Homo sapiens: one gene and its partners. The protein of the gene in region 2 purifies or fractionates together with the protein of the main gene of each other region. This does not show direct contact. Each region holds a gene or a part of one and is shown on either strand. Other genes may lie near its edges.

Evidence for each region.
Region 1: the proteins of FRMD5 (region 2) and CYB5A purify together in Homo sapiens (co-immunoprecipitation; one large-scale study listed by IntAct). This does not show direct contact.
Region 3: the proteins of FRMD5 (region 2) and COLEC12 purify together in Homo sapiens (affinity purification with mass spectrometry; one large-scale study listed by BioGRID and IntAct). This does not show direct contact.

What each region holds. Positions count from the first base shown.
Region 1 is NC_000018.10:74,257,311-74,260,963, forward strand, and holds part of CYB5A (cytochrome b5), read right to left. Parts: intron 3,635-3,653; coding exon 3,605-3,634; intron 1-3,604.
Region 2 is NC_000015.10:43,922,644-43,926,296, reverse strand, and holds part of FRMD5 (FERM domain-containing protein 5), read left to right. Parts: intron 1-1,987; coding exon 1,988-2,092; intron 2,093-3,653. UniProt on the Homo sapiens protein: May be involved in regulation of cell migration. May regulate cell-matrix interactions via its interaction with ITGB5 and modifying ITGB5 cytoplasmic tail interactions such as with FERMT2 and TLN1.
Region 3 is NC_000018.10:329,602-333,254, forward strand, and holds part of COLEC12 (collectin-12), read right to left. Parts: intron 3,543-3,653; coding exon 3,406-3,542; intron 2,177-3,405; coding exon 2,067-2,176; intron 1-2,066. UniProt on the Homo sapiens protein: Scavenger receptor that displays several functions associated with host defense. Promotes binding and phagocytosis of Gram-positive, Gram-negative bacteria and yeast.

The DNA of each region.
Region 1 (3,653 bases), on a different chromosome or scaffold from region 2:
CCATGAACTCTAAAGAGGGGAACTTGAAATAATCGTATCACCTTTTGATTGTTGATTATCTTCTTGGCTCTGTAGCCCAGGATGCTTGACAGTTAAAGGAAGTTTGAATTACCACTTTGCACTTTGATGGAAAAGTAATTGGTCTTTAGTGGTCAGTGCTCTGAGGGCCTCACTTGGGTTTAGGGACGTGACTATCAAAGAATGTCAGCAATGAACAAGGAGAAAGAATATGGTTTTTATGATTGGCTCTGCCACCTGTTCACTCCATGACTTCGAGGTTCAACTTCAGTAAAAAGAGGTTAACAATTAAATCAGTGTGTCAAAGTCTGGGCATGGTGGCTCAGGCCTGTAATCCCAGCACTTTGGGAGGCCGAGATTGGCGGGTTGCTTGAGTCCAGCAGTTCGAGACCAGTCTGGGCAACATGGTGAAACCCTGTCTCTACAGAAAAATACAAAAATTAGCTGGGCACAGTGCTGTGTGCCTATGGTCCAGCTACTCGGGAGGCTGAGGTGGGAGGATTGCTTGACCCCGGGAGGTGGATGGTGCAGTGAGTCCAGATCCATGCCGCTGCATTGCAGCCTGGGCAACAGAGTGAGACCCCGTCTCAAAAAAGTAAAATAAGTATGTCATGCATAATGACTTATAAAAGTCATGTGAATCAGTGTAAATTACAGTAAGCTCCATAAATTATGAAAAGCATGCAAAGCCCAACAAGCTTTTGTGAATCAGAGTCATCTCATTTATAAGTTCATCTAACGTAAACTTTAGTGGGAAGCCTATCTCCCTTAAAATACTGACAGAGTGATGTCTAACACGGCAAGCCCAGAACCTAGAGGAGAAGCTTAAGGGACTGCAACTGACCAGCCTGAGATGGGTGCTAGATGGTTCTGGAGCACGTCTGTGAGCCGGGTGCTTAACACTTCCCAGCTGCAATGTACCTACCTCCCTTGGCAGGTCTAACATGGAGACACTGTGAGGACCAAATAACTTCTACAAGAATGCTTTCAAAACTATAACCAAGAAGGGGTATTGCTACGACTAATATTCTCTATGTAAGCAAATGTGATAGAAACATTTATGTTAGATTAAAATGCATGATTTCTAAGTCTACAAATATCTTAATTTGGTAACTTAACACTATGCTTTCCTTAGGGCAGGTTCAAGCTAATAATCTTTACTGCATTTTATTTCACTATTCAACTAGATATTTTAAGCAGGCAACATCTCAAAACTTTAGACCACAGTGTACATTCTTCAACCTGGAGATCGGCCGATGGTTATACAGACACATGACAAAAGAAATCCCTAAGGACACTCTTTACTTCCACTAAACCAAAAGCACAAGAAAGATACATCCAGAAAAATGCTCATGTATTTCCTTTCATTTCATCTGCTTATGGCCTCTCAAAAAGGCCAGCAAGTTCTTGTCCCACATTCTTCCGGTTCTGCTCTCACTGAAGCAAAGTCACAATAAAGAAGAGTTGTTTAAAAAATACTCAGAAGTTAGTTAATCTGTAAAATCTCTGAAGAGAGTAAAAACATCTACTTTAGGCTGGGTGCCGTGGCTCACACCTGTAATCTCGGCATTTTGGGAGGCTGAAGCAGGCGAATGCCTGAGGTCAGGAGTTCAAGACAAGCCTGGCCAACAATGGTGAAACCCCATCTCTACTAAAAATACAAAAATTAGCTGGGCATGGTGGCAGGCACCTGTAATCCCAGCTACTCGGGAGGCTGAGGCAGGAGAATTGCTTGAACCCAGCAGGTGGATGTTGCAGTGAGCCGAGATCACGCCATTGCACTCCAGCCTGGGTGACAAGAGCAAAATTCCGTCTCAAAAACAAACAAACAAAAATCTACTTTAAAAAGTTAGTGTGATTCTCAAACTTCAGTGAGACCTTCTACATCTAACAAGCTGATCAAGTATCAACTGCTAATGCTGGAATGAAGTAAGCCATGTCTTAACGCACAAAGGGCTGTGCCTCAATGTTGTCAGGAAAGCTTTCTTTGATACTAAAAGCTAAAGTCCCAGAATTTACCACATAAACTTGCTCTGTTCCCAAAATATTCTCAGTATCAAAGTAACTGCCACTTTAAAATAGAAAATAAGAACAATAAATAGTAATGGGCAATTAATCCAACAGAGTATAGGCTGTAATACACGTGTTCTAAAAGCAAATAAGGAAGAAAGTCTTTGTCCTTTAAACTGAAAGTAGTTATGGCAGGAGACACATGTACAATCTTACACCTACAAGTGTTTTCTGCTTGTAGTCTTTATGGTTAGCGAGACGGCTGGCCCTGCGGTCATCTAAGTTCATCTAATGAATCTTAAACCTTTGTTTTGCTATAGCTAAATGACTTATACCAAAATGATTAACATGCTGAACACATGATAAAAAAAATATATATTCTTCCCTTAAGAGACTTCAGAGAAAAAGGAAAAACTTTATGCAACACAGAATTTCAGCTGTCCAAAAAGTAGCCTCAAAAAAGATGCTAAAGTCAAATGAACTCACAGCAAGGATTCTAAGCAATTGTCACAGAGGCCATTGAAATTCTGAAGTCAACTTTTTATCTCCTGGAAGTACTCATATCATTCACATTGAACTTAAGTCTTTCTTGAATAAGGAGAGAATATAAAAAAAATTGCTTTGTACTAAATAGTATTACACAAGACTTTTATTGTACTATCAGGGATGTTGAGGTAAATGTGGCCTTTATGCTTATATTATTGGATTAACTGCTTTGATCCTTTTGTAGATTAAAGATGATGTCTTGGCAGCAACAGCTCAAAAAATCAGCTCACCAGTTCTCGACACAAGCTCAGTGGGGTCTTGCTGTTGCACTTTCTCTAATGAAACCAAGAATTTACACCAAAACGAAAAATTATACTTTCTTTTTTGTCATTTGATTTAAGCAAAACTTTCCCCTGTAGTCCTTTAATTAGACACTAGAAACTATTTTGCCTACTTGTACTTTTCAGGAACTTAGGCTGTGCTCTTCCATTCTCACCCTACATTTATCTTCAAATATAAGTGAGATGGTCAGTTCAGAGAGAAAGGCTAGTGAATCAGAACATAAAACTAGTATTGCCAGAGTTATTTTCCTTTCCCAAGGAAAAGTAAGTCAAAAGGGTATTATTTAATTTCATTAAATTCATCTGACAAGTATTTATTGAACACCTACTATGCCCAAGAGACTTAAAGATGAAGAAGACATGAGACACACCCTTAAAGATTTAAGTAATAAAACCACTATCCATTCAGATTTTAAGTTCTCTGAAAATAAGGCTTGTGTCAAATCTTTTAGATCAGAAGCACGTGCTACCATAAAAAGTAGCTCTTCAAATGGTATATATTGATAATTATGATGAAAAAAGTAGTTTACTGACAGCCTTAAAAAAATTACACACACGCCATCCTAACAAATCATACTGACAGGTTTCCGTAAATAAAAAATACTTGCTGAGCCAGTAGGTTACATATTCATTTATCTAGAAAGACCTGTGCTGGCATCAGTCAGGTAAATAAAAACCCTCTGCCTTCAGTTTGACAAGTATTAAATACAACGAGAACATCCAGAGATACTTGAGATGGTCACACTTACCGGAGGCTTGTTTAACTTTGGTCTGTCATCCTGCAATGAAAAGATAAGG
Region 2 (3,653 bases):
GACCACTGGGGACAGGCCAGCGATGGATGCTGTGCAGGCTCCAGATGTTTTGACAGGTTCCTGCAAGTCATTCTCCTCCCACTTCACCCTTGGCATCCAGGCAGGTCTCTGAAGTAGAAGGTTATGGGTTATAAACGGCCTAGCTTTTCACCATTTTGTGAAATCTTTTAGCAAACCTTTTCCCTTCTATTCATTCAGTAATTTATTCAACAAATAATTATTGAGGACCTGCCTGCCATGCATCAGGCCCTGTGCTAAGTTCTGGGGGAAGGATTCTGACCTCATGAAAATTACAGTCTAGAAAGGAAGCAGATAGTAAATAGATAACTAAACAAATCAACAAGATAATTACAGATTGGTATAAGTGCTATGAAGGACATAAATGGCAAAATGAGATGGAAAGTAACTGGGAAGGGCTGTACTATAGGGAAAGGCCTCTCTGAAGAGGGGACATTTGAGCTGAGTCCTCAAAAAATAGGAGTGGCTGCAGAGAGCTGCAGGAAGAACATTCCCGGCAGAGGGAATGCAAAGACAGTGGCAGAAAAGCCTTGGGGAGTTCAGAACGGAAAGGCCATGGCTGAAGTGTAGTGAGGAAAATGATTTTGGGTGAGTGCAGAGAGAAGCCAGGCTGTATAGGGCCTGGGACGCCATGATCAGAGTTTTCATTTTATTCTGAGAGCAACAAGAATTAAGAGAAGTGAGTAACATAAAGATCATTGTATGTTCACTGCCACATTGTTTGTAATAGCAAATTAGAAACAAATGTCATCAATATGGAACTGGGTAAATAATTTTAGATTCATTGCAGTGACATGCAGCAGTTAAAAACTGTGAGGCATATCTATATATATTGCCATAGAAGGATTTGCAGGATACCCTAAGTGGGAGAAAAGAGCTTAAAAATATGTTACAAAATGTATTTTTAAAAGAGGAGATGTATATGTATGTAGGTTTGCCTGTGTATAAAACATCACATAAAGGATATACAAGAGGGCTGGGCATGGTGGCTCACACCTTTAATCCTAGCACTTTGGGAGGCCGAGGCAGGCAGATCACCTAAGGTCAGAAGTTAGAGACCAGCCTGACCAACATGGTGAAACCCCGTGTCTACTAAAAATACAAAAATTAGCTGGACGTGGTGGCACATGCCTGTAATCCCAGCTACTTGGGAGGCTGAGACAGGAGAATCGTGTGAACCCAGGTGGTGGAGGTTGCAGTGAGCCAAGACTGCGCTATTGCACTCCAGCCTGGGAGACAGAACGAGACTCCATCTCAAAAAAAAAAAAAAAAAAAGGATATACAAGAAGCTGATAACAGTTGCTTCTAGGGAGAGGAACTGGGGCACAGGGTGGCCAGGGTGGAAGGGAGACTTACTGTTCATAGTATATCCTTTTGTTTGTTTAAATATCCTACAATGTGCCTGATCACTTATTCAGCAAGAAAGAGATGATGTCTAAATTGTGGACACCCTCATTGCTGTGCGGAGAATGGACTGAAAGGGCAAGAGCAAAGGCAGAAGATCAGTTAGAAGGCTCTGGCAGTGGTCCTGTTGAGGGATGGTGGTGGCTTGACCTATGGTGTTGGTAACAGAGAGGAAGAGAAGTGAATGGATTCAAGATTTACTTTAGAGGCTCAGTCAGCTGGGCCTGGTGTAATTATTGCTGTATTCCACACTGACATTCCCTACACCCACAGTTTAAGAAAGCTCTCTGTGCATTTGAGATGGGAACTGGGCTTACCTGACTCTACCCTGACTTCTCTGACATCTTTGTGGTGGGAAGGGTTCTTGGGCTCCTTCCAGGTGCTAAAAGCCTCTGGATTCCAGACAGTGAGTGATGTATCACAATGTGGAGGACATAGTTATGGACATTCACCCCTTTCATAGACACATGCAACAGTTACAAACAACTTTTAATGGCTATAAAAAAAAAAAAAGTTACACTGAAGAAACCCACTCATTTCTCAATGGAGTTTTCTTTCTTTGCAGAGAGATGCCAAAGGCCAGTACCTGTTTGACCTTCTTTGCCACCATCTGAACCTACTTGAGAAAGACTATTTTGGTATCCGCTTTGTAGACCCAGATAAGCAGCGGGTAAGTCAATATTCAAAGCACAAAAGGAGGACAGGGCTAGTCAATAAGACTGAGGTCTTGAACTGTCATTCATATTCAAAGTCAAGCTTCAGGAATCAGGGACCAACCAGACCCTGCAGTTGGATGTCGTCTCTTCAGATCATAGCATTAGACCTGGAAGGCACCTTGGCTAGAGCTCACCTGGAGAAGCTTGTCATTTTACAGTTGCTGAAATGGCAGGCTAGGGAGCTTAAATGATTTGCACAAAGTTGGAGGCAGAGCAGCTGGGCTGGAGTTGTGGTCTCGGAGCCCAAGTCACAGGGTGAGCCTCTCCTGCCCACTTTCTAGTAAGCAGGCTGAAGCACATTGTACTGGTTAGGAAAGGCCTCACCAAAGGTGCCATACCAACCCAATCTAGGCAGTACAGACAGAGCCAAACCAGCGCGGGCCTTTCAGCACCTTGCAGATCTTGCAGTTCTTGCTCTGCTCTACACAGCATAGGCAGCTCTGCAGACACAGGGCATTCTGATAGCCAAGGGTGCTGATATTCCAGACAGATTCAGGAACAAGTCCATCATCTCAGGCCCCTGCCTATTTCTCCAGCTTCATCTCCCCAACCTGCTGTGGTCCCGCCAGACAGTAATACTTTTGCCCTCCAGATACATCATACCTTCTTTCTTTACAGAGCCTTCACCTATAGAGTTCCCCTGCCTAGAATCTTCTCCTTTTCCTTACCGCTCCACACTCCACACCCTTCTTCCAGCTAACTCCTTTTCACACTTAAGGTCTCAGCTTAGACTTTTACTTCCTCTGGGAAATCTCCCCTAACCCCACTCTGTATTAGGGATCCTCCTATGGGCCCCCATGTGCCCTCTGCTACCCTGTTATAGCACTTATTACATCATTCTGTGATTACCTGTGTTCCCTGCAAAAATGTAAGTTCCATGAGGGCCTGGACTTTGTCTCATTCATCACTATCTCCCATTTAACTAGCACAGGCCTACAATGTAGTTGGTGTTCAATAAATATTTTCTGAAGAAATGAATGCATGAGTGAGTTAATGGCTTATAGTGTTGTATTTCTTACGTCCATTTGCCCAGCCTCCCAGCTTGCAGACACCTGCAGTTTCTATAACTTCCCTTCATCTACCCTTTGCTCTTTGTGGAGATGTACTCTCTGGCATCCCCACCAAAGTAGAGAGGTAATGATGGTGTTTCTTTGTTTGGTCCAAACTTTTATCCTTAAAAAGGAAGGCTGGCTGTGTGCACTGGCTCATGCCTGTAATCCCAGCACTTTGGGAGGCTAAGGCAGGCGGATTGTTTCAGCCCAGGAGTTCATGACCAGCCTGGGCAACATGGCAAAACCCCGTCTCCACTAAAAATACAAAAATTCGCGGAAATGGTGGCATGTGCCTGTAGTCCCAGCTACTTGGGAGGCTGAGACATGAGAATCACTCGAACCCGGGAGGTGGAGGTTGCAGTGAGCCAAGATCACACCACTGCACTCCAGCCTGGGAGACAGAGCAAGACTCTTGTCTTTAAAAAAAAAAAAAAAAAAGGAGGGCCAGTTACTCCAAGATCTC
Region 3 (3,653 bases), on a different chromosome or scaffold from region 2:
GATTATGCCAGGGGGTACCCCTTCCTCTCCCCAGGACAGGCGCAGAGGAGCCGACGAGTCTCTGACAGGCCTGCAGCAGATATCCACTTGCCCTTAAGGGCAGTCTGAGGCTCACCTTCAGAGCAGACCTAAAATCTTCTAATGTTCCAAATCAATATTTCGCCACATGTTTATTTTTTATAAAGAGCTGGCCTGGCTAGGTGCGGTGGCTCATACCTCTGATCCCAGTGCTTTGCGAGGCCAAGGTGGGAGGATCACTTGAGGCTAGGAGTTTGAGACCAACCAGAGCAACATAGTGGACCACGTCTATCCAAAAACTTTAAAAATTAGCCGGGTGTGGTGATGTGCACCTGTGATTCCAGGGACTTGGGAGTCTGAGGTGGGAGGATCGCTTGAGCTGGGGAGATAAGAGGCTGCAGTGAGCCATGATCGTGCCACTGCCCTTCAGCCTGGGCAACAGAGTGAGACCTTGTCCCTTAAAAACAAACAAATAAAAACAAAAGAGAGATGGCCTTATTCTGGTTTCCTCCTTTATCCTCTGATCCTACTCACATGGAGAATTTGAAAGTACAAAAGAGCCTGTTTATCCAAATGCACATGCACACGCACATAGGGACATTTAAAAAACTCGATCTGGCTTCTCCATCACCTCTGACCCTCCTCCCTGCTGCTCAGCTGATACAGGGCTAGGCCTCCATGCCCATGAGACTCTCTTAGGCCTGAAACACCCTTGTTTTCTCCTCTCCTGGGACAGCCCCAGAGGCCACACCGTGGACTTTGCCTAGTGCTCTCAGAAGGTGCTTCCAATGCGGTGATGCTCCTGTGCCTGGTGGAGCCCTGCAGGGTCTGGCCTCTCCGTCCCCAGCAAACTAAAGGTTACTCAGAGGGTTTTTTTTTTTTTTAATTTTATTTTTTTTATAAATTCTGCTTCATTTGTTACAGTTCCTTGCAATTTTCACACCCGTCAGAGGCAAAGCCAGAGTATGGAGATGTGATAATCAAACTGATGCAATACAGTCATTGTTAGATCTTTGGGTAGAATTAGGGAAGGAGCTAACACCCCCTAGGGTAGGATGAGGCCCTGGAGACTTCTAGGTTATCCAAGAAGGTACCTCAAAGTGATTCTATTCTTTGTTGCTCCTTTCATAGAACTTAGGTCACATGGAACTTATGGGGAATCTTCAAACCTCTAGGGGATGGTTATCCCGCAAATGCAACTTTGTTTATAGTGTATTTTAACTTACTATGAGTAGGAAAATCACACATTTGTAGTTTTTTTTTTTTTTTTTCTTTTTTGAGATAGAGTCTTGCTCTGTGGCCCAGGCTGGAGTGCAGTGGCGCCATCTCGGCTTGCTACAACCTCCGCCTCCTGGGTTTAAGCAATTCTTCTGCCTCAGCCTCCCGAGTAGCTGGCATCACCCGCATGCGCCACCATATCCGGCTAATTTTTGTTTTTTTTGTTTTTTTAGTAGAGACGAGGTTTCACCATGTTGGCCAGGCTGGTCTCGAACTCCAGACTTCAAGTGATCCGCACACCTCAGCCTCCCAAAGTGCCGGGATTACAGGCGTGAGCCACTGTGCCCAGCCAGGAAAATTACTCATTTGTAGTTTCTAATCACACTCTGCCTAGAAGCCCAACTAGGGGTCAGGGGCACCCACAGTGTGATCCTGAAGGGAGCTCCCCAGTCCTTGGAAACACGCCTGGGGCGAACGCTGAACATGCCTGAGGTTGCCTGGGCTTCATCATCTTTTCCCATAGCATTTAAAGAAAATGACTTGGCCAGAAGTATTATGCTGTGTGGTTTTATGAGTTTCATGATTTTTTTCTTAGAAATGAAAAAAAATTCACTCCATGAAAAGAAGAAAGGAAAGCCTTATTTGACAGCGTATCAACTGTCAACCACGATTTCCCCAGGGGAAATATGCAACTGGTACCAGGAGCCCCGGTTTGGGAGGAGCGTCTAGGACACGAGGTCATTAAGGAAGAAACTGTTGGGAGTCGGGCAAGAAGTGACAACAGAACAGTGAGAGCCTGACCACCAATCTGGAAGCTTCTGAGTACTTACTTGTAGTCTGGAGATGTCCCATCCAGCCACTTCCATTCATTTTCACGCTCTGAGTCTGTGAGGCCGATCCAGTGGCTCTCTCTCCCTACCATCTGTTTTTTTATCCATTGCTGAAAAACAAAGCAGGGGTGGTGCGTGACTATTTTTCAGAACAGATGTCTCAGGCCTTTTTCTTTTATTTAACATTTAGAAAAAAGGACAATTTAAAAGAGGATGGTTGTCAGAATGTGTAGCCTGCTTTTGCTTTCTGCTTTTTTCTTGCTACTTGCTTTGTTTTGTGCTGTTTGGGGGGCTTTGACTTTTTTCCTCTTACAAGTTTACAACGGATGTTAAAGTGAGGCTCTTCCTCTAAATCACTCAGACAACCCAGTGAATGTCCATTGGTCCCACTTCCTCCTACCACCCACCCATTTCTCCCATGTCCTAATCATAGGAATAGTCATGATATTCTTGGGCACTTCCTCTGGGCTGGGCCCCACGTGCAGTGTGTTGCACGCAGTGTGTCTCCAAGCTTTTATAACAACCCACTGAACAAACATGAGAAGTAGCTGAGCTGGGCTTGGGCCCTGGTCTGTGTATTCTAAAGCCCAGGTGCTTGGTCACTGTCTGCCGTGTGCTCATTCCAGTCAGTTACTACAGGAAACATCTGTTTACAGGATTGTGTCTGCTGGAGATAACTTAGGGAGAAGGGAGGAGGCCACTGGAATTGGTGTGGTATCAAAGAAAGCGCTGCATTGTTGCTAGATGGGCTGCAGTTTTGGTCTCAGTCTGCATAAACCTTGCCGGGCCTCAGTTTTCCTAGCCGTCAAATGAGGGTAATAATAATACCTATGTTCTAGGGTTGCTGTGAGGTTCAAGGGAGCAAATGCCTCTCACGGTGCCTGGCATATAGAGGGTCTAATGAGTGGACACTAGCATTAGCATGCGTGGGCTCTGCCTCCTCAGCCTTCTTCGCTCTTCCTGACTCCTCTGGAGCCATGCGTGGTCCCTTGCACCCCACTCCATCCCTACAGTGTTCATGCCTCTCTCTGTCCCCACAGGTGCCTGGTGGCAGCCCTCAAGCTTCTCTGCATTATAATTATTTCAACAGCCACCAGAAGGAGCCACACATCTCCAGGCTTGATAGGCAATATCTTCCAGGAAGAATCATGAAGATACAATTCCAATGCCACGAATGCTTCTAGCCACTGGATGAAACCCAAATCTCTGTAATGTTGCCTCCCATGTTTACGTGACTAGGAATTCGTGATATCTCTGAATCCCCAACAAGCCTGCAATTTCCAGATGTAAACTATCCTTAAATTATAGTTTTCCCCAACCAAGTATGTGGCAGGCATACCTGTTCCTCTCTAGTGTTTATGAAAACAAGATGTGAAGACTTGTCTTCACAGAAAAGCTTTGCATCCTCAAAAATTTCTTTCTCAACTGAAAAATAGTAGCATTTGTCTGTGAAGTTCTTCCAGTGAGGCGGGCAGCCTAGGAATGCAAAAGTGGAAAACATTGATTAAAAGATCACAGAAAGCACTCTGCCTTTCTTCAGCTGTGTTTCAGAGGCCAAAACTGTGGTCCCGCTGGGAGCAGCCTGAG